Linked DNA regions of Homo sapiens. The protein of the gene in region 1 purifies or fractionates together with the protein of each later gene. This does not show direct contact. Each region holds a gene or a part of one and is shown in the gene's direction. Other genes may lie near its edges. The genes, in order: OR4D6 and LRRC8E.

What was found.
Region 2: the proteins of OR4D6 (region 1) and LRRC8E purify together in Homo sapiens (affinity purification with mass spectrometry; one large-scale study listed by BioGRID and IntAct). This does not show direct contact.

Annotation. Positions count from the first base shown.
Region 1 is NC_000011.10:59,455,513-59,458,512, forward strand, and holds OR4D6 (olfactory receptor 4D6), read left to right. Parts: upstream 1-1,448; coding exon 1,449-2,393; downstream 2,394-3,000. UniProt on the Homo sapiens protein: Odorant receptor.
Region 2 is NC_000019.10:7,891,189-7,895,009, forward strand, and holds part of LRRC8E (volume-regulated anion channel subunit LRRC8E), read left to right. Parts: intron 1-2,384; exon of another isoform or gene 2,385-2,671; intron 2,672-3,331; exon of another isoform or gene 3,332-3,821. UniProt on the Homo sapiens protein: Non-essential component of the volume-regulated anion channel (VRAC, also named VSOAC channel), an anion channel required to maintain a constant cell volume in response to extracellular or intracellular osmotic changes.

The DNA of each region.
Region 1 (3,000 bases):
GTAAATTGCTATTATATAGCAATAGTAGAATATCCCTGGAATTTGAGTCAACAAACCTGTTTACAGTTCTCTATATTTCACCAATTCAAACTCTGATTCTGAAAAAAATAAATGTCCTTCTCTAGTCACTTCTAAAGTAAGAAACATTAGACTAATTTATCTCTGAAGTCCTGTGACGCTCTAATGATCAGTTTTTCTGTGATACTAAAACATGCCCTGAACAATGACTGTGGCTCTATACAAAGAGCCCTGTGTGTCAATAGCAAGGTCCAGGCTTCCCAGAGTGCCAAAGAGGAGTACTTATGAGGGCCTGACCCTTCTCTTTTTATAAGGGATGAGATAAGGATTAGGTAGTCAAACTACTTAATAAACTGTTTAAGCCTTATATACACACTAGAATTCCGGTAAGCCAAAGTAAGCCCCAGACTCTCTGATTTCTCAGAGTTGTACAGTGGAAAAACCTCTGGAGACTGTTATGTTAAAGAAAAATTATTCACCAGACAATTATTAAAGACAGGAAGATAGATTTCATTTAAAACTCTTGCAATAGAAGAAAAAGATTGAGCTCAACTCGAAATATAGTGAAAACAAGTGAAGATTTATAAGCAATGAGCAGAGTGAGGGAGGTCAGTGGATTGAAAATTACTAAGAAGTGATATCAAAGGTAGGGTGGTTCTTGCTAAACTGGCATAAAAGAATTCTTGCTAAAGACTGGCCAAGGACTTAGATATTGAGGGTGAGGGATGAGGTTAAAAATAATAAATATATAAAAGGGTAAGGGGTGAGGAATTTGATTAGATTTCAAGGGTGTGGAATTCTCATTAAACTGACTTGGCAAGATTCCTGTTAAAATTGGGCTCAGCAAAGACAGACACAGAAGGTCAAGGTTGAGTCATAGTCAAGAAAAGGGCTCAGAGGAGCCTAACCAACATTTGGTCAAGGAGGGAATCTTTCTCAAGTCAGGAGATTGATTTGTATTTGAATCCTCAATTTACAATTCACTAATTTTGCGACTATGCAGATGTAAGTCATTAACTGCTGTAAAGCTTCAGTTTCCCCGTATATAAAATGGAGATAACCATACTAAAGACTCTTCAGAAACTTCATGAGAATTGAAATCAGTATGAGCTATTGCAGGTGAAAGCCCTTGGTAAAGCATAGGCAAATGGCCATAGTCCATCCATCTCTCTCTGGTCAGAGTGAGGATACAGACATGTGATGGTTTTTTCCTGTTAACCCAAGGTATTTACAATAAGAAAGAAGAACCATATGAAAGAAGAATTTCCAGACCACAAAGAGAAGACTGGCCCAGTTTTTCTGTGTAGTCATGATGACCTGGATGCTTGAGAGCAGTATGTGATCAATGATTTTGCCACCTCATGTCACCATAATCCAAGTTCTAACATATCTTCATCAAAGGTAGGACCTGGAAGAGAGTCATCCCCATCATGGACCAGATCAACCACACTAATGTGAAGGAGTTTTTCTTCCTGGAACTTACACGTTCCCGAGAGCTGGAGTTTTTCTTGTTTGTGGTCTTCTTTGCTGTGTATGTAGCAACAGTCCTGGGAAATGCACTCATTGTGGTCACTATTACCTGTGAGTCCCGCCTACACACTCCTATGTACTTTCTCCTGCGGAACAAATCAGTCCTGGACATCGTTTTTTCATCTATCACCGTCCCCAAGTTCCTGGTGGATCTTTTATCAGACAGGAAAACCATCTCCTACAATGACTGCATGGCACAGATCTTTTTCTTCCACTTTGCTGGTGGGGCAGATATTTTTTTCCTCTCTGTGATGGCCTATGACAGATACCTTGCAATCGCCAAGCCCCTGCACTATGTGACCATGATGAGGAAAGAGGTGTGGGTGGCCTTGGTGGTGGCTTCTTGGGTGAGTGGTGGTTTGCATTCAATCATCCAGGTAATTCTGATGCTTCCATTCCCCTTCTGTGGCCCCAACACACTGGATGCCTTCTACTGTTATGTGCTCCAGGTGGTAAAACTGGCCTGCACTGACACCTTTGCTTTGGAGCTTTTCATGATCTCTAACAACGGACTGGTGACCCTGCTCTGGTTCCTCCTGCTCCTGGGCTCCTACACTGTCATTCTGGTGATGCTGAGATCCCACTCTGGGGAGGGGCGGAACAAGGCCCTCTCCACGTGCACGTCCCACATGCTGGTGGTGACTCTTCACTTCGTGCCTTGTGTTTACATCTACTGCCGGCCCTTCATGACGCTGCCCATGGACACAACCATATCCATTAATAACACGGTCATTACCCCCATGCTGAACCCCATCATCTATTCCCTGAGAAATCAAGAGATGAAGTCAGCCATGCAGAGGCTGCAGAGGAGACTTGGGCCTTCCGAGAGCAGAAAATGGGGGTGAGCAGTCAGATGGAGAGTGGAAGTCTGTCTGACTTAGTTTTCTCAAAATGCTAGCCTAAGAGTAACAGGTCGCTAGCTCTTCTTCCACTACTTCATTGTATATCTTCATAGCCGCTCGATTCTATTAGCGGGAGTATACAAACAAAAAGAAGAAATGAGATTAAACAATGTGAGCTATCGAGCTTGTGGACTCAGGAGAAGAAGAGGGTATAAGGTTGAAATCAATACCCTAAATGCTTTTTGGTGTTACCTGTGACTCATACCAACACTTATCTCACTTTTAGCACCAGTAATATGGAAATATCATTACTTGCTCACAAGTTTGTCAAAAGAATGAAATGTGATCAATGCTGTGAGGATGATAGTTGTGAAGGTTAGTACTGCTCCTGGCATTAATCAGGTATTCAATCAACATTCCCTATTACCTACCCCTCTCTTCCTAAATGTGCATATACACAGAATATAGACACATTTATTTCATATATGCTTTCTCTGGTGACTCTGCTATATCCAGTCAATTATTGAAATCACTTGATTTTATTTTATTTTATTTTATTTTATTTTATTTTATTTTTTTGGGACGGAGTCTTGCTCTGTTGCCCAGGCTG
Region 2 (3,821 bases), on another chromosome or scaffold:
AAAATGAGGCATTCAGTGTCTGGTGGAGAAAGCTGAGCGTATACGTCCCATCGTTTTATTTTCCCTGGCTCTGCCCCAATTCTTCGAGCCCCTGTTCCTGGACCTTCCCACCAGCCCTGCTCAGACAAAGTGGGGGCCTATTTTATGTCTGTGGAAATTTAATGGCAGGTTTGTGAGGATCAAGTTTGAGTCATGGAGACAGATAATGATAGCCCCTGTGGCTGCCCCCCGGTCCCCTGAGTGTTGCTGCCTTCTTGTCTGCGATTGTGCACCTGGGATGGCTATTGGTGGAGCTTACACCAGGGTGGCAAGGACAGGAAGTTGGTCCCTGCTCGGGTGTGTGTGTGTGTGTGTGTGTTTGTGTGTGTGTGTGTGTGTTGTGTGATTTCTTCTGCAGCCTCCAGAGTCAGGAGTTTTTGTTTTGTTTTGTTTTTTTGAGACGGAGTCTCGCTCTGTCGCCCAGGCTGGAGTGCAGTGGCGAGATCTTGGCTCACTGCAGCTTCTGTCTCCCGAGTTTAAGCAATTCTCCTGCCTCACTCTCCTGAGTAGCTGGGATTACAGGCATCCACCACCATGCCTGGCTAATTGTTTTTGTATTTTTAGTAGAGACGAGGTTTCACCATGTTGGCCAGGCTGGTCTGGAACTCCTGACCTCAAATTATCCGCCTACCTTGGCCTCCCAAAGTGCTGGGATTACAGGCGAGAGCCACCGCGCCCGGCCCCAGTCAGTAGTGTTTTGCTTGCTGTGTTTGAGATAGGGTCTTGCCCAGGCTGGTTCATGGCTCACTGCAGCCTCTAACTCCTGGGTTCAAGCAATCCTCCCACCTCAGTCTTCCAAGTAGCTGGGACTACAGGCATGCACCACCACACCTGGCAAGATTTTAGATTTTTTTTTTTTTTTTGAGACGGAGTCTCGCTCTGTCGCCCAGGCTGGAGTACAGTTGTGCAATCTTGGCTCACTGCAGGCTCTGCCTCCCAGGTTCACGCCATTCTCCTGCCTCAGCCTCCCAAGTAGCTGGGACTACAGGCGTCTGCCACTATGCCCGGCTAATTTTTTGTATTTTTAGTAGAGACGGGGTTTCGCCGCATTAGCCAGGATGGTCTCAATCTCCTGACCTCGTGATCCACCCACCTCGGCCTCCCAAAGTGCTGGGATTACAGGCGTGAGCCACCGCACCCGGCCCAAATTTTTAGATTTTTTTGTAGAAATGGGGTCTGACTATGTTGTCCTGGCTGCTCAAACTCCTGGGCTCAAGCAATCCTCCTGCCTCAGCCTCCCAAAGTGCTGGAATTACAGGCCTGAGCCACTGCACCCAGCCTGGGGTCAGCATTCTTAGGTAAAGCAACTGAGCAGTGTCCCTGCAGGATCCTTGGAGGACTCAATGGATGGCCGGAACCAAAACAGGACGTGAGGGTCCCTGGTGCTGGGTCCCTCCGAAGCTCAGTGTGTGTACTTGGACTTTATACCCTCGTGCACAAATATGCATGACCCAAAATGACCCCAAGCGTCCATTTTGGTGGGTGCAATGTACATATTCTTCCCCTGGGGACAGTTGAGCTATCCTGGTATGTTTCTACCAGATTACATACTGGTGACCCAGGCAGACTGGGATATTTGTAGTCGGGTTTCTTTTCTCTTCTCTTCTCTTTTTTAGAGACAGGGTCTTGCTCTGTCGCCCAGGCTGGAATGCAGTAGTGCAATCTTGGCTGACTGCAACCTCCGCCTCCCGGGTTCAAGGGGTTTTCGTGCCTCAGCCTCCCGAGTAACCGGGACTACAGGCACCCTCCACCATGACTGGCTGTTTTGTATTTTTATTTTTATTTTGTTTTAGTTTTGAGACAGAGTCTTGCACTATTGTCTGGGCTAGAGTGCAGTGGCGCAATCTCAGCTCACTGCAACCTCTGCCTCCCAGGTTCAAGCGATCCTCCTGCCTCAGCCTCCCTAGTAGCTGGGATTACAGGCACCTGCCACCACGCCCAGCTAATTTTTTGTATTTTTAGTAGAGACGGGGTTTCATCACGTTGGCCAGGCTGGTCCCTAACTCCTGACCTTGTGATTTGCCTGCCTCGGCCTCCCAAAGTGCTGGGATTACAGGCGTGAGCCACCGCACCTGGCTAATTTTTGTATTTTTAATAGAGACGGAGTTTCACCATGTTGGCCAGGCTGGTCTCGAACTCCTAACCTCAAGTGATCTGCCCACCTCGGCCTCCCAAAGTATACTTGGCTTTTTGCTTAGGGCAGGGAGTGTGAATGAGCATGAGGGCCAGGCCATGGTGCGAAGGACCCTGTGCTCTGGGCACCCCCTTGCATGGATCTGGGTCTGGGTGAGTCACTGCCTGAGTCAGGGAACCCATGACTTTTTTTTTTTTTTTTCCCGAGACAGAGTCTCGCTCCGTCTCCCAGGCTAGATTGCAGTGGCACGATCTCAGCTCACCACAACCTCCGCTTCCCGGGTTCAAGCGATTCTCCTGCCTAGCTGGGACTACAGGTTCATGCCACCATGCCCGGCTAATTTTTGTATTTTTAGAAGAGACGGGGTTTCACCATGCTGGCCAGGCTGGTTTCGAACTCCTGACCTTGTGATCCGCCTGCCTTGGCCTCCCAAAGTGCTGGGATTACAGACGTGAGCCACTGCGCCTGGCCCAACCTATGACATTTTACACTTGCATGGTGAGTCCCCGTGTGGGCAGGCTGTACCCACACCCTTGCCTGCCTATCTGATTCCCCAGACTGAAGTGGGGGCCTCTGAGGGGGTAAAAGGATGTGGTCTTTCGGGACTGCTTGGCCTTTAGCTTGGTGGGTGGAGCCTGTATCCTACCTTGTTTTAACCCAGGAGTCACCCCAAAATATGGGGGGGACACAAACTGAAAAGGGAGGCTCAGACATGTCAGAACCATTGGCTGAGTCGTGGGTCAGGGGACCAGGGTTTCCCTAGATTCTTCCTGGGGAGATGGATGGGGAGCCAGAGATAACTCCCTGATGGGCAGATGCCCTCCTTCTTGGCCCAACTCCTGTCCCGTTACAGATTATCTTTGTCTTTTGTTTTGTTTGTTTGAGATGGAGTCTCACTCTGTCACCCAGGCTGGAGTGCAGTGGCACGGTCTCACTTCACTGCCACCTCTGCCTCCCCGGATCAAGACCCTCCCACCTCAGCCTCCAGAGTAGCTAGGATTACAGGTGTGTGTCACCACACCTGGTTAATTTTTTGTGTATTTTTAGTAGACTCTGGGTTTCACCATGTTGGCCTCACTGGTCTCGAACTCCTAACCTCAAGTGATCCACCTGCCTCAGCTTCCCATAGTGCTGGGATTACAGGCATGAGCCACCGCGCCCAGCCCCAGTTACAGATTATCTATCTGGACAAGGACAGGAGGCTCCCAGGAGTGGGGGAACTTGGATGTTGGCAGAAGTGGGCTGGTCTAAGGTTCCCCACCTTCCTTGTTCCACCTCCAGCCTCTGGGGAAGTAGGTACCTGCCTGGGAGAGTGACATCTCAGCTCATGCCCCACGCCCCAGTGTGATTTGTGGCTGGCCTGTCTGTATCTGTAATAGTGATAGCTTGGTCTAAAAGGAGACCCTGGGAACAGACAGAGTGGGCCGGCCAGGAGCCTGACAGCACAGCCCTAGCCTGGTCGCAGATGTCACCTGACAACTTTCCATTTGCAAATCCTCCTTCCTCCTCGGACATCCGGACACCCCATTGCCCCCTCTCAGAGCCCAGGTCTCTGGTTTCTGCCTGTGATTCTGGGCTGTAGCCCCTTTAGAAACTCAGGTGTCCTGGTCACCTCCTACCCCCAGGGCTGACTAGCCTTCAGCTTGGC